Regions from separate parts of the Homo sapiens genome. Here region 1 is linked to region 2. The links come from fine-mapping of genetic effects on gene expression. A gene starts in region 2. The other region holds a variant in brackets. All regions are shown on one strand. Distances are between the middles of the regions.

Region 1 (8,340 bases), 49 kb before region 2:
GGCAAATCTGGGATTTAAACCCAGGTCATCTGATTCCAGAGCACCTCCTCATTAACTGTCTCTCAAAAATGATCAGGTCCAACAGTTTTCAAATTATATACCACTGTCAGCAAGATTTCTATATGAATTTAGATTAAATATAAATAACTAAAGATCTAATAACACATATATATTATAGATCAAATCTAAAAACACTGAAATGATAAACAGGTTAAATTAGGCCATATGATCTGATTAATCTCATTTGTACACAGATGCTCAAAATAAAGCTCCTCCTCCTACCTTCTAAAAAAAAAATGCCACAAAATTAGGGGGCGGGAAGGAGACAAGTATAGAGTAGGTAACAGAGCTTTTTGAGATTTCGGACTTCGTATTTTCCCTCATTACATCGCTCCTGTTAAGGAATAAAGTGTATATGTGAAATATTGCTTATAATTTATTTAATCGATAAATGCTTTTCTTGTAAATAACTATTTAGAAAAGTTAGAAATAGTTTCTCCACAATTCACACTGGGCTGCTATTTTCTGGTCAATTCAGTTGCTGTGGAATGTGAACATTTACTAGTCCATAAAGTTTCACAAGAAAGTCTCCCACAAGTGTATCAATTAGAAGCATACTAAAATTTATAATCTTATGGTATTAAATTATCAGGAGTTAGAAAATATTTAGCCTTATGAAATACTTTTAGATTGGAATTTTTCTCTAACATTTATGAATAAAATCACTGTTACTACCTTTATTGCCTTCTAACCTTTCTTGGTGATACAGAAAAAACAATTTGGGCTTTTTATATAGTCCTAAAGCCATTATATATATGCTACTTTAACTTCCAATGTCTAAGAGATGACTTAGTTTGAGATATGGATGTCTTAATCTGCCAGGATTTAAATAGTAGCAACTGGAATAACCCATAGACGGATAACATCTGTTATTAAGCTTACTTTTTCCCCCACCATCAGAAGATTTATTTTATTTCTAATTAAAAAACATACAGTTGGCAAACTCAGGTTTAAAACTAAGCATGCCAATAATAAATCAATCATTTCTCCAAGTACACAGTGTTTCCCTTGGGAAGGACTGTTATTTCACAACATTTTTTTCCCTCTGATTTAGAAAAAAAGATAACATTTAAAGTATTACAATGCCTAAACAGTGATACCAGTAATCCAGTTTTTATACTGATACTTGTATTTCAACATTTATTATCACCAAGACTAACTTAAAGCCAACTCCTTTAGTGAAGAGATTTCTTTCCCCATTTCAGTACTAGACGCAATAGTTCTGAATGTCACTGAGCAAGTAACGGATATGAGTTATTGATAAATTAATTACTAATGAAGAGTTTTTATACTACCTCCTTTATAATTAGCTAGTTCATAGACTTAAAACAAAACAATGAACAAAAACAAAACCCTATTTCTTACCCTCTAAATGGTCGCATTTCCCTTTCACTTACCTGAAAATATGAGAATAAAAATGACCATGTATTGAGTTACACCACTGAATCTGTTTGAATGGTTCTGTTTTTGTATTTTTTACTTATTTAATTTGAAAAAAATTAGAAAAGTATTAGTTTGAAATTAGAGCAGCTAACACACTGGGGGCAATAAATTAAAAACTTCAAATGGCTAAAAATGAAAACACAAAGTATCTTTCCTTCTAGATAAAAAAGATTGTTTTCTTCCTAGAAAGCAAAAAAAAAAAAAAAAAAAAAAAGGCAACTAATGATTTGAGAATAAAATCAAACATAACTGGTATTCACCACAGCAATGTCTAGATAAATGACCCACATAGCACAAAACTTTCTCATTCACAATCACATACAGTTAAGTTGCTTTTCCCTCAGTTACATAATAGTTGTCTTCAAACAATCTCCTTTTAGAAAACTATCACATTAGTTAAACCTATTTATTCTTACTATGAAGTTATTAACTTCATTTATATAGGCCACACAGGTTTAATTGGCACACTTTACTTAAGAATAAGACAAAATAAGTCACTCTTCTTTAAAAAAAATTATGGTCATCTGTTTTCAAAGAATAATCCCAGATACTTAATTAATTAAAGCAAATTTTCTACGATCAGCAGTGAGCTTTTTAAATGATCACTAAGTGTTCACCTGAAGATTATCAATGCTATATGAAGTGTAAACTTGAAAATTTGTGTCCATTTTATAATAAGATACAATTTGCACTGAAGAGTTTTTAAAAAGATAACCTACACACATACAGTTAATTTGCCTCAAACAACTTCTTAGAAATACAGTATAAACATTTAAGAACCACGACAAAGTTGTGGTTCAAACTTCAACAAAGATTTTCTTGAAACCCAGTATAAAGATTACTGGCTCAAGACCATATCCCAAAGTGAAATCAGCAGGAGATTTGATTGTAAGACTCTACCTTTTAAAAAAAGAGCACACTTGGTTATACATGGCTTTTAAACTTGAGCTACAGTTATGCTACAAATCCCCCCACCCTCCCAATCTAAAATCAGTCATGTGGAGATATGTACATTCTCTGAGCATTGTTTAGAGTCCTTGGTTTTCCAGCTTTGATGGAGATCTAGAAGGCGTTCAGAAGTCCGTGTGCTTACATTCAGAGCAGGATGAACTTTACAAATTCCACTTTCCTCCATTAGTGACAGGCCACAGATCCCAAAGTATGCATGCAAAGCATCTGAAAAGAAGGCATTTAAAACATCATAATAGGCATTCTTACTTGTACATTCTACAGAATATTTTAGCCACATATTTACCAGCCCATCACTCCATTAAAAGTAAGTTTAGAGAAATGCTAATATAGTTTTAAAAATATTTGCTTTCTCAAAGCCTCAAACACCAATTAAAAAAAAAACTCAGATGATCAAAATAAAATATTTTATTCATGAAAATATCATTAACAAAGGAAAACAGTTTCCAGCTGAAGAGCTGATACTGTCCATAACCTCTGTGATTAAAAGACAGGAGTAGCAGCAGTCATATGTAAGACTTCTCACTTTGGGGAGTTTCCCCTCTTGCTTACTAGAGAACATGAAAACGAGTAGCTTCAATGCTATATCATTAAGTTTTTTTTTCTTTAAAACGAAAACAAAACTCTGAATCTAAGTTGCAATATCCCTCGCTCCACGTTTTACCTCTGAAAGTTCCTAAACCATATGCAGTACTATCCTAACATTGTGTTAAATAAAAGGAGCTTATGCAAAAATAATCCATTCTGGAATGCTGTGCCATATTTAATCCTCCTATTTAGGGTAATGTCAGTCATTGTAAAAATATCTGATCTGACAATAAAAACAAACTCACATTCTATTTGGTTGAAATAATATGAGTGCTCATACCATGACAATTCTGCACTGGCTCACTAGTTTCCCATCTTTCAGGGGGCAGCGATCCTCTTCTATTAAAGTGGCCAATGAAATCACATGGCCATTCCTGCCTAGGAGTCTTATGTAGACTTCTGAAGAGCTCAGAGCTTTGCAGTTA[T/C]AGGAACATTAAAAAGACAGTTTTGTACCAGTCAAAATTTTTTTCTATTTTTGAATTGGCCGACATTTATGGCCTTAAGAGCTATTAAAGTTCAAAACAGGCTGGGTGTGGTGGCTCACACCTGTAATCCCAGCACTTTGGGAGGCCGAGAAGGGCATATTCCTTGAGCCACAGGAGTTCGATACCAGCCTGGGCAATACGGTGAAGCTCCATCTCTACAAAAAATACAAAAATTACCAGGTATGGTGGCGTGCGCCTGTAGTTCCGGCTACTCGGGAGGCTGAGGTGGGAGGCTCACCTGAGCCTAGGGAGGTTGAGGCTGCAGTGAGGCATGATTATATCACTGCACTCTAGCCTGGGCAAAATAATGAAACCCTGTCTCAAAACAACAACAACAAAAAGTTCAACACATCTTACCACATCAAACTTTGTCAAAAGAGTTAAAGAAAAAGCTTTACTTACAACAGTATCACTTATTTTTCAAAACAGAAATGACAAATAGCTGTGCTTACTCAATGCCATTGTGAAAATGTTATTTAACTAATGGAGGCCCATGTTGATCACCTTTTAGGCCTTTTCAGAAAATACTTAGGTTTCTTCTGGCTCACTTTCCTTTGACTTTCAGACTATAAAAAATAAACTTGATTTCACCTGTCATATTACATCCATATAGTTATTCTAAAACTACAAAGGGTACAAAGCAACATTAAGCTTTGTTTTCTAGAAACTAGGAAACTTTTCTAGGAAAAAGTACAACAGAAAATATATATCTATAATAACATAAAATAGAACTGTGTAAAACTAAAATCTCTCTGGGTAAAGTAACAAATAAAACTTATTTGTTTCTCAAAAAGATTTTTGTAACAGCCAATGAGATCAGAACTCAATTGTTTGAAGCCTCAAATTGTGTTTTTAAAAAAACTCCTTATCTGTAAGTGGCAACGTACAAGCACTTTAGATGTGGAACTATATGTTTACTCCATAATAAAGCACTTTAGATGTTGAAATATATATTTACTCCACAATAAAAGGTTATTCTTTTGAAGTTTCTTTCATAAATGTATATAAAATCCCTTTGTATCAAATTTGCCACTAAATTCACTAGAATGAAGAATAAGCTTAATTTTAAAGAATCTTGTTAAAATGATTAAAGATTCTGGGACCAGATCTTTACACATAAATTCAATTTAGCAAAGCCCTTCTATGCTTTCTATTGCATACTCTGAAAACATTGTAATGTATCTGTAAAAAGTAAGTAGTACATCCAAATATTTACACAAATGTTAAAGTTAGCAACTGAACTCTCCGGAAAAAGCCTCAAGAACTTTCTTTTAAAAAAGCTATTGGAAACACTGAATGTATTTCAAGTATGTTTATACAAGAAATGTTTCCTAAGAGACTGTCATTTCCCTACTCCCATTATTTGTTAAAACAGTACCCTGCACTGGTTTAAAAAATGGAATGAAGACCAAAATAATTCTCAGTTTTGAGGCACTAGAGATATCAAAAATTTCAAGATATTATTTTGCTTGAGAAATTAACTTCTGAAGACACACTTTGGCTTACGACTTTGAAAGCAATGTACACTTTCTCTAAGAAGACATGTTTTACTACTGATTGATTGATTGAGACAGAGTCTCGCTCTGTCGCCCAGGCTGGAGTGCAATGGTGAGATCTTGGCTCACTGCAACCTCCACCTCCTGGGTTCAAGCAATTCTCCTGCCTCAGCCTCCTGAGTAGCTGGGACTACAGGTGTGCACCACCATGCCTGGCTATTTTTGTATTTTTGGTAGAGACGGGGTCTCGCCATATTGACCAGGCTGGTCTTCAACTCCTGACTTCAAGTGATTCACCAGCATCAGCCTCCCAAAGCTGGGATTACAGGCGTGAGCCACTGCACCCGGCCATTTATTTTATTTTATTTTTTGAGATGTACTCTTGCTCTGTTGCCCAGGCTGGAGTGCAGTGGTGTGACCTTGGCTCACTGCAACCTCTGCCTCCCAGGTTCAGGCAATTCTTCTGCCCCAGCCTCCCAAGTAGTTGGGATTACAGGCACCCACCACCACGCCTGGCTAATTATTGTATTTTTAGTAGAGGCAATGTTTCACCATGTGGCCAGGCTAGTCTCAAACTCCTTGCCTCAAGTGATCCGCCCACCTCAGCCTCCCAAACTGTTGGGATTACAGGCGTGAGCCAAAACTCCTGGCCTAGGAAGCATGTTTTATATGAAAATATAGGCAAGTAGGGGTGTAAGGAAATATTCCTGCTCATTTCAAATACAAAAATTGATTTCATGAGCTCCTTATTTATATTCTGATTCAATCACACATTCCAACCACAGCAGTTCTGTGATGGAAGATGAGTTGATGAGGCACTTTCCAGGCTGATAATAAAAACCACGACTCTATTGCAATACTGGCAAAAACAATCATTCCTTGTGTCTAGTTTCATATTTGTAACTAATTCTTTAACTACTTGCTTATCAAAAGTGTCAGTGTTTGAAATTATTTCAAAACACACTTAAATGGATTTTTATAGGGAAGCTGTATATAGACTCATTTTGCTGGAGGTGAAAACATATGTCGGGTGAGGTGTAGGCTGCAGAATGATGCTAGAGGTGGGAGAGGAGCCAAATTTTGGAAGGGCCTTGAGTGCCATGCCATTTATATTGTCTGAATCTGTTGAAATTTGGAGAACAAGAGTATGGGAAGTGAGAAACACATATATTCAGGATTTGAAATATTTTATTTAATGACTTTTTTTTTTGAGACAAAGAGTCTCGCTCTGTCACACAGGCTGGAGGGCAGTGGTGCAATCTCGGCTCACTGGAACCTCTGCTTCCTGGGTTTAAGTGACTCTCCTGCCTCAGACTCCCGCATAGCTGGGACTACAGGCACGCATCACCACACCTGGCTGATTTTTGTATTTTTAGTAGAGTCGGGGTTTCAACACGTTGGCCAGGCTGGTCTTGAACTCCTGACCTCAAGTGATCCACCTGCCTTGACCTCCCAAAGTGTTGGGGTTACAGGCATGAGCCACTGTGCCCGGCCTATTTAATGACTTCTGAAAAGAGTAAGAACTGATTCCCTTCAGGATTGGGAGTAATTTATTATACTTAGTTCAAGTCATGACTAATAATCCTAACGGCTTTGGATGGCCTAAATAATTCTCTTCTTTGGAAAGGACCCATTCAGACCATCTACATTATTGCTGCAAATGAAATAAAACATTACTAAGTAAAATATTTGGGAAAAAATGCACACTATTCCCATGCATCTTGATAATAAACTCTTTCATTTATACTCTCTAATACCCTAAATTTATCCTAAGCTTACACAATATACCTTTTAAAAAATATTATTTAATGTAACTTTGCAACTGGATATATTTTCTATCATATGCCTTTTCTGATAAAGATGCTTGAAGATCTATTCAGGAAATAAAGGTTGTTCTGATTCACAAAGAAAATAATTACCTGGATGACTGTCTGGCCACTTGGCAAATCCCCCTACAAGGCGATCTTGAGTTGATAAGATGTAATTTCTATTTTTCTCAAAGTTAGTGTATTGGAAAATTTTTAGAAGCTGAAATGACATGACAAATAAAAATTTACTGACATAAAACTCATATCAACCTTTGGCTCAAATTTCAGATACGTGTCATTTAGATATGCTTTTCTTTAGCTAAGGTGCTCAGACCAAGTCTCTGGGGCCTTGAGCACTTTTGAAATGAGTAAATCACATTAACTTTTTAATTTTCTTATCAAATCTACTCTCCTTTTCTCGACTCTCTATTTCCTTCTTCTGAACCAGGCCAACTGAACCCTTTAAATCACATTAAGCTAAATTCAAAAGACAACTCGAATCCACTCAACATAATCAGTCATTTTAAAAAGTACAATTTTATCTACCCATATTTTAACTCTTATGATAAGCTCTTGAGCTATTAGTTATAAACTAGTAGTAACTGGAATTAAAAATATTTTTTAAAAAAAGAGCAAACAAAAATTACTAACCAGATGCTACAGACAGTTTTGAAAATAGTAAAAAAGTATAGCTCTTTAATTAGGAAAGAAAAAGGTAAGACAAAAATGATTGCAACATAAAAAACTATATAGTTTTTAATGATTTAGGACATGTACTTGGCTTTTCTCTCAAGACCCCATAAAAGTAAAATACAAATAAATAAATAATACTGTGAAGTTCAAGATGAGGTGCACAGTAGGTAAGAGGGTTCAAGACATTTCTGATGATACAAAGCAATTTAATATATGTTAATGAACCAGAGAGAGCCACAGCTTTTAGTGACTAATGAAGAAGCATTATTTCTCAAAAAGAAAAGCTAAACTCATAAGAAAGTTATGGTACAAACAGGAAACAAATTTATTCATTTACATTGATTTAATTAATAAAATATAAGGAAAAAGACTTTTTTGAATCTTGATGTTAGGAATATTTTCCATCAGTGGCACACTGGTCATTACATAAAAATGAAAAAATTATAATAGTAACACTGCACTTGGCTTAGCAATAAACAATATTTTCACTATCCCATAATAAGTGTTGATTACTGGTTTTTAAATTTTAGAATCAACCTATAGGCAAAGGCTGAAAGATGTGATTATTAATATTGAACAAATATATGAATGTGTCCTAACTTAACATTATAAAAATAAAGGTAACCTTATATAGCATTGGAAGGTAGAAGATGAGGAAAATATTCAGAACTAACTATAACGGGTAACAATTTGTTGGAAAAGTGAGAGGCTAAATCTTAATTTCTCATAGTTGGGAATCATCAATAATGTCTAAAGGTGATAAGAAGTCAGTCTGTGATTTAAAGTTATGGTAATGTC
Region 2 (8,340 bases):
AATCTGCATTTTAACAAGATCCCCAAGTGATTCACATACACATTAGAGTTGGGAATCACTGCTGTAATAACTGCATATTTGTTTCTCCTATAAGGCAAACAGTCTCTAACTTTAGCCTGCTTTAGAACCACCTGAGATGCGTGTTATAATGCAGACTCCCAAGGCCCACACAGAATCCAATGAAGGTCTGGGAAGGGGCCCAGGTATGTGCATTTTTGAAAGCACATACAAGCCATTACTTAGAGTCTCCCACCACTACACTTTGAAAGATGTACTGCTAGACTGTGATATATTTAAGATAAGGGGGCCGGGCACGGTGGCTCACGCCTGTAATCCCAGCACTTTGGGAGGCCGAGGCGGGCGGATCACAAGGCCAAGAGACCAAGACCATCCTGGCCAACATGGTGAAACCGCATCTCTACTAAAAATACAAAAAATTAGCTGAGCGTGGTGGCACACACCTGTAGTCCCAGCTACTTGAGAGGCTGAGGCAGGAGAATCGCTTGAACCCAGGAGGCGGAGGCTGCAGTGAGGAGAGATGGTGCCACCGCACTCCAGCCTGGTGACAGAGTGAGACTGTCTCAAAAAAAAAAAAAAAAAAAAAAAAAGATAAGGGAGGAAACGAAAGAACAAAGTAGTTGCAGAATGGGAGGCAGGAGAGAGGTTACAACACAGGATACACAGGGGAAAATAGAGGGACATGAGAATACAAAGACTAGCTAGATTGTAAATGCTTTGTGAAATAAAAGCTAACTGCCTAAACCCTTCTTCTAGAAGAGGTGACTGTAAAAATAACAGAAAATTGTCACTACTTTGTTCCTTAATAAAAAGGACTACTCTAATTCCTATTACCCAAATACAAATGGCAAGAATAACTCATAACCACACTAAACTCCCTAAACTACTTATAAAAGAAACCTGGTAATTGATAAAGCTCCCAACCCAAGATTTAATATTCACTTGGATTATAAACTAGTAACTATCATTTTAAGAAGTCAATATAAAAGAAAAATCTCTGATGAAACCGCAGACAATACACTCTTTATTTTCATAAAGTCATTGTCACTAGAAAAGTAAAAATTATTCCTATTGGTCAGGCTAAAAGAAACAAGAAAATAAGAGTAATTTTGCCAAAATGGTGAATCTGAAAATAAGTGTCTAAATATCCAGTCTAATATTAGCCTTCTCAAAGCTTTTTCATACCTATTGGTAAAAAGAAACGAACAGAGGAACACCTGAATCATTAGTTTAACACTGTATACCTGTACCTAGACACATGGGGAGGCACTCTATGAATGACTGTGGAATTTAACTGCAATACCAGGTAAGAGTTGTGGCTTGCCCAATGTACTGTTTTGTCTTAAAGATCAGCAGAAACTTTGTGACCGGTCACCTTTGCTGAAAAGGTTGGAGTTTCTTCACAAGCATTTTAAAGTCAGTTATGAATCACATGCACCACAAAAGAACTTAGTGCTAAAGAAAATAAAGTCTGTGAGTTAGGAAAGAGAAAAACTTAAAATCACTACAGAAACTGACATATGCAGTTATCTTAAATGCGGTTAACTAGGCTATAAGAAAACCAAAATGATGTAAAAATTCTATTCATATGACAAACATTAGACAAAAAAGGATACAATATTGCTTAACCAATGCACCAAGGTGTTATATAACACCTGGTGTCGATCCTATGCTCATACTAAAGTTAAATAAGTCAGAAAATTTGTGCTGTTTTACTTATGCTGTGAACAGAATTACACAGTTTAATGCCAATGTGCATTATTCTATATGGATTTGTCCAAGCTGGAATTTTATAAAACAGGCCAAACACATTGGCATTTTGAAAATTAAATCACAGACTTATAGTGATAGCTGCAAGCAAAGTTCAACTGTTTAACAATCACAATTTAATCAGCTCACAGGACTTATACACTGCATCTATCTAAGCAGTGTATGTATACGATAAATATGCACATTATGTATCAATAACAAAAACAGGATGGAAGACTTTTTATCTAAAAGCTTTGAATTCACATAAAATTAATCCCTATTAAGATATAAACAATTTATCAACATTTTAAAACATCTCATATCACTACAATCATAACCTTTCGGTTTGGAAATCTGAATCTTTCAGTGAAGGTATAGGCTCTGCTAATCGATCAACACCTATGAGAGGAGGAAGGAATATAAACGTTTCACTCTTTCTTTTGTGAGAATCTGTTCATCCTTCAGGGCTCAGCTCACATTATTCAACAAATATTTCTTAGTGCTTCTCAGATACCAGGTACTATTTAAGGTCCTAGTGCAATGTTGACCAAAAGGACTAAGCTGTTGCAAATGTTGAAATAGAAACAATTGCCACTGGCCAATATGGCAACTGGGTACTTGAAATGTGGTGGCTACTACCAAAAGAATCACTTAATTTTTAATTTGATTTAATTAATTCAAATCAAAATAGCCAAATGTGGCTAGTGGCTACCAGATTGGACAGGGCAGCCCAGTCCTAAGTATAGAGGTAAACAAGATAGACGAAAATGTTACCTTTGTGAAGTTTATAATCCAGTGTAATAGAAAGACATTAAACAAATAAACCAATACATACGTAATGTGAGGTGGTCATTGGAAGTGGTCCCTTTAGGAAGGGTGTTTAAGGAAGGCCTCTCTAAAGATATCTGGATTATGTACATGCCTGTCTATATACTCCTATGAACACTACACTAACATATAGCACAGAACTCTATACAAATGCTTGTCTTGTTCAGCTGTACTCTGGCACCTACCATAATGTGGTTCTTGACCAAGTGTGCAGAAGTAATCTGCAAAGCTCCCCAAACTGATCCGGTCATGCAGTGTTCAAAATACACCAGCAACTCAGAATTTGGAAAACGTGGGGAAAGAACACAGCAAAAACAAGCCGCTCTTTCCTCCCATCCAGTCTCAAGCAGCTTTTGAGCTTCACTTCAAAACACAGCAATGCGGAGCAAAGATTGCCTTCTCCTTTCTTTCTTCTCATCCCCAGCTTTTACTGTAAATGAAGTCGCTTAGTCTCTGCCGCACCACACTCTTCAGCTATTGCGATACTTTTAACAGGCTGCTTCACGCAACACCACACCTCTTTCGCCTACCATTAGATTTATAGTTCCCACAAAGTTTCTAAGACCTTAGAGGTTCTCTGCCGCTCCTACACATAAAACACCATACAGACACTCTATTAAGAGTTAATGACTTTAGAGAGGACAAGGATGCACAGAAGTATTCATCTAAAAATACGACGACAAACTTTGTCCTTTTCCTTTTACACTCGGAAGTAATGAGGCAAAGTGACAGGCTATGGGAGCGGGTAAAAAAGCAGCTCAGAGTTGCCAGAAGAAAAGGGAAGTGAAAAAGCCGGAAACTGGAGATGCCACAGCCCTCGACCTACAGCCTTCCAGACCTTCCCACCGTACGGCGGGAGAGTGGGGGTAACCTCAAGCCCACTTGAAACCAGTCAGTGCCAACTGGGCGGCCGCGCAGCCCCCTTCCGGCGCCCAGTTTGCGGTCCGACTCCGCCGCGCCTTTCCGCTGGAGCCCGGGCCTTGTGCCAGCCTGGCTGACTGTGCCACGAGTTACCTGCTTGTCTCGAGTGAAGAATAGCGCTCCGGCAAAACCTGGAGGCAGCGCTGGAAAAATCGCACGTGCCGATCCCGTAAGAAATCCAGCCGCTCTCCCTCACCGCTCCCTGCTAGCCTCTCATCCTCAGTGGCCGCCATGCTGCTCCGGAAGCGACGTCCGCCGCGACCCGGAATCAGTGCCCGCGGAGAGAAAGAACCCTCCTGTGCTGAACCACAGGGTGCCGGGTGAGGGGACCTGCGCCCGCCGCAGACTAAGCCAGTATTTGAAACCGCTATCATCTGGGTCCTGTGCAGCACTTCCTCTCTCCGATATCTCCCTAGCTAGCGCATGACCCTACCTTTTCTACTCAAAGCCCTCGAGGCTTGTAAACACCTCGCAGGCCTTGTGAAAATCAAGTCCACAAATCCCTCCGTCAGAATTTTTATCTTGGGAAGCGCAAGGTCAAAAGCATCAAGTACGCTTTGAGACAATTCTGGCTCTGTAGAACCTGAGGATGGTATATCTGAAAACGAGGATGGATCAGTATAAACTTGCTAACAGATTCATTTTTGGAGGGCCAGTTTTAAGCCGAACGGTTAGGGAAACAGAAAAACAAACCAGTGGAGATAAATGTTTATTGACACTACAAAAGCTCAGAGACTTTCCTAATCTTAATCCTTTCTGGATACCAGGAATCACTTAAAAATCTGTGTATAATGCCCCCAAACATATACAACATGCATATTCATACCTATATATGACTGCTTGCGTCATTCTTTTACAAATCTTACAGATTTTACTTTGCTTGAGTCGACGTGTTATCAAGAATCAATGGTGCATCAATCTGCAACAGCAAAATAAGCTCAATATCTTCTCCAATTACCTGCATTCTAAAAAATTTAAACATGCTTCTAGTTCTTTTTTCCAAAAATAGGGATTTAAGTTGTTTAGCCGGTATACTATGCCCTTTAAACTTTCATGAGGCATTCCTGAGTAGCGGGTGGGGGGATCCACCCAATAATATAACTAAACTAGGTTCCCTGTGATCAACTTAGCTAATAAAATTTTGGGTTTAATTTTGTTAGCTTTCTTAGAAAATGTAATTCTTATACTCTATGGGCTGGGGTAATCTTACACTTATTCAACAATCCAAAGTGCTCTGAATAATTTTTGGTACTATTAACTACTTATTCACAGGTATTCCTGCATGTCTTTACAAAATGCCGCATTTAACAGCCACAGACGGATTCTAGGCTGTCCTCGGTACTTCCCTACAAATACGGAGCTCACAGTCCTTGCCCTTCAGGTGTGCCCAGTCTGGAGTTTCCACTGTTATTAAAATTAAGATCTCTCACTTAGCACACATACCCCCAAATGCCTGAAGATTTTTAAAGTGGAGTCTTATACACATTTAACTTACTGGAATCAGCTATGGACACTCTATACATTCTCAGAAAATTAATTCTAATAAACATGGCCCTTAAGTTAGGGAAGCCAAATGTTTCATCTGATTCTCAGCTCAAGGACTAGCAATCTGATCCAAATCTAGAGGAAAAATTTGCAATGTGGGACTCATTCAGAGATAATACAGAATGCCTCCTAGGTCGGTAAAAGGCTTTCCATGAGTGATTTTATCCCTACAAGATTTTTGGCATGTGCATAACAGAATGGGAATGATAGAACATCTATATAATTGAGTGTTATTTAGCCATTACATGATAATGTTTGAATTAGGTAGAAATGTACGAAAATGTGTAATGCAATTATAGCATAGTAATTAATATGTACTGTATGACTGTAACAATTTAAAAATATGTAGGTATGTTTTTTGAAAAAGTTACCCTGGAATTATGGGTACTTTATAACATTTCTTCTTTAGTGTTTTTTCTATGTTTCTTATTAATGTAGTTTTTTTGTTTCCAGGCTTACTTCATTTTATTTTTCTTGTACAACCCGATGTTGTAGCCACCGCTGGAGCCTGGGTCCTCTGCACGGAGACTCTGGTGTGGGTCTTGAGGAGGTGGTCAGTGAATTCCTGATAGGGAGACTTGGTGAATACAGTCTCCTTCCAGAGGTCAGGGTTCAGCCTGCTGTAGACCTTAGAGATGGCATAAAAAATGACCATGACGAAGTTGCCCAGGATGGCAGTGCAGCCCCTGGCTGAGGTGTAGCAGTCATTGATAGCTGCCATCAGCAGCAGCTTCTTGGCCATGGGGGCCGAGACGATGCCAGTGCTCCTGGGCGCAGGGATGACCCGCGCCAGCACAGAGCCGTGGCAGCCTGTCACCTTGCAAGGGATGGTGTGGGGCTTGCCGATCTTGTTCCCCCAGTAGCCTCTGCGCATGGGCACAACGGAGAGCTTGGCCAGGATGATGGCCCCGCAGATGGCAGTGGCCACCTCCTTGGAGCACTTAACACCCAGATCAGTGTGGCCACTGTCCCTGATGGCAACAAACGCCTTGAACCTGGTGTTCTGGCCGGTGCAGGTCTGCTTCTGCACTGGCACGTCTTCAAAACCTCCTTCTTGAGAGAGGCCCCAGGAAAAAGTCAATGATCACAGACTCCTTGATGGGCAGAGAGAAGAGATAGATCTACTCCAGGGACTTAATCTTCATGTCCTTGACCAGGCAGCCCAGCTTGGTGACAACCATCTACTCCTTGTCCTTGGTCTTGCCTCCACGAGCTCTGCAGCTGGCCCCGGCCCCGTCCATGGCCGCGACACGAGTTCCCCATCCCAGGGCCGGCTGAGACCCCAGTTCCCCATCCCAGAGCCCCCCGGGCCTCCGGGCCTCCCAGGTCCCCCGCTGCACCGGCATCATCCGCGATTTGGTGTTTTCTCAGAGAAAAAGCTAATGTACTTTTTAAACCAGTATAAGAAATATTTATTTGACATCTTGTTTATGAACCTGTAACTTCTATGAAGTCTGTAACTGAAGATATTTGTTTATCTTACATCTTTTATATAAAGGATCTATATAATAAATTCATCATTTATTTCAGATTCAGCTAGAAAAACTGATTTCTTCAGAGGAACTTCCATACTTTTCTTTATTTAAAAAAAAAATAAAAAAACAAAGCCATAAGAATCACATCATCCAGAATGCTTACCTTGGATACAGGAATTTGAAAGCTGCATTTCGGTGCAACAAAAAGCAACACGTAAAAAAGCAATATGTAAGAAACATTTTCTGTATCTTGTAGCTTCTCAGTTCTGCTTTTAATTTCCTCATCTTGCTCTGTGTTTTATTTATGTATTTATTTTTTGAGATGGAGTCTCACTCTGTTGCCCAGGCTGGAGTACAGTGGCACAATCTCAGCTCACTGCAACCTCCGCCTCCCGGGTTCAAGCGATTCTCCTGCCTCAGCCTCCCAAGTAGCTGGGAGTACAGGCGTGAACTACCACACCAGGCTAATTTTTGTATTTTTAGTAGAGATGGGGTTTTACCATGTTGGCCAGGCTGGTCTTGAATTCCTGACCTCAAGTGATACGCCCACCTTGGCCTCCCAAAGTGCTGGGATTACAAGCCTGAGCCACTGCACCCAGCCTCTATATTTTATCTCTGAACTACTTCAAATCATTACAAAAAAGTTTTGGATAACAAAATCAGCACTCCTGTTTAAGGATCTTTTATGTCAATTTTCTCATTCTGCACCAATAACTGTACAAATCAGAATTCAGTTTCTAAAATTTGGAAGCCATCTATTTTGAATATTAACTGTAAAATAAGAAAAGATTTTCACCGCTACTCATAGTACCTTTCTAACTGAGTCATTTAACCTAAATGCATCCCATTAACAATGAAAGATAAAGATAAACAATGAAAGATTAAGATAAAAAAAGATTTATAAGAGATAAATTTCCTGTGTTTTTATGTATATAGTATCTTTCCTATGAGAACAAATTAAATAACGTTAGAAAGGAATATTTTATAATATGAAAAGTTGAACTGTATTCAATTACATTGTGTTTTCATGTCTAAAAGTTTAGAAATTTAAGAACTAACTCTTGCCCAAATATGTTAATCTAACAGCTTTAAAAGATCTTATTCATTCATTCCTTCATTCATTCATTTTAGAGACAGGGTCTCTCTCTCACCCAGGCTGGAGTAGAGTGGTGCCATCGTAGCTCACTGCAACCTGGAACTCCTGGGTTCAAGTGATCCTCCCACCTTATCCTCCCAAGTAGCTGGGACTACAGGTGTGTGCCACCATACCCAGTTAATTAAACTTTTTTTTTTTTTTTCTGTAGAGACAGGGTCTCCCTGTGTTGCCCAGGCTAGTGTCAAACTCCAGGCCTCAATTCTCCTACCTTGACCTCTGAAAGTGCTGGGATTACAAGCATGAGCCACCATGCCCCACCTAAAACATTTTAAGTGCCATCAAGAGAAATCACAGTATTTTAAAGCTGGCTTATTTCAGATGATGTTTCAGAACAAAGAATTTTCCTATTTTGAGGCAAACAGAAGCAGAAAAGAAAACTGCATTAGCCAGGAAGATGTGAAAGACACAAAGATTTTATAAATCTGTGAAATCCAGAAAGGCTGAAGGAAAATTTGGAATTGCTGAAGGAAACCAAAAAGATTATATCAATAATACAATTAATAGGGTATATGAGAGACATATTTTTAAAATAAATATTCTCTATATAAAACAAAGCATGCTTCAAACAAATACAAAATATTTATTACACAAAAATGTCATAACTGACAAACTGCCAATTTGTTAAACATAGAAAAAGTACTAACATTT

The links.
Region 1: its variant is fine-mapped to the expression of PGGT1B in whole blood (TOPMed, PIP above 0.99).

The regions. Positions count from the first base shown.
Region 1 is chr5:115,209,905-115,218,244 of GRCh38, forward strand. PGGT1B (protein geranylgeranyltransferase type I subunit beta) reads right to left here. Exons shown (of 9, transcript NM_005023.4): 8 at 6,961-7,069; 9 at 1-2,679. The coding sequence ends at 2,498. Among named protein-coding and RNA genes, the nearest start is that of TRIM36, 44 kb to the left of the region's middle. The variant T/C (reference allele first, on the strand shown) is at 3,486.
Region 2 is chr5:115,259,103-115,267,442 of GRCh38, forward strand. PGGT1B (protein geranylgeranyltransferase type I subunit beta) reads right to left here and starts at 3,775. Exons shown (of 9, transcript NM_005023.4): 1 at 3,610-3,775. The coding sequence starts at 3,749. It overlaps CCDC112 (coiled-coil domain containing 112), which reads right to left. Exons shown (of 10, transcript NM_001040440.3): 10 at 8,088-8,340. It also overlaps the pseudogene RPS2P26. RefSeq lists enhancers at 3,634-3,813, 3,844-3,893.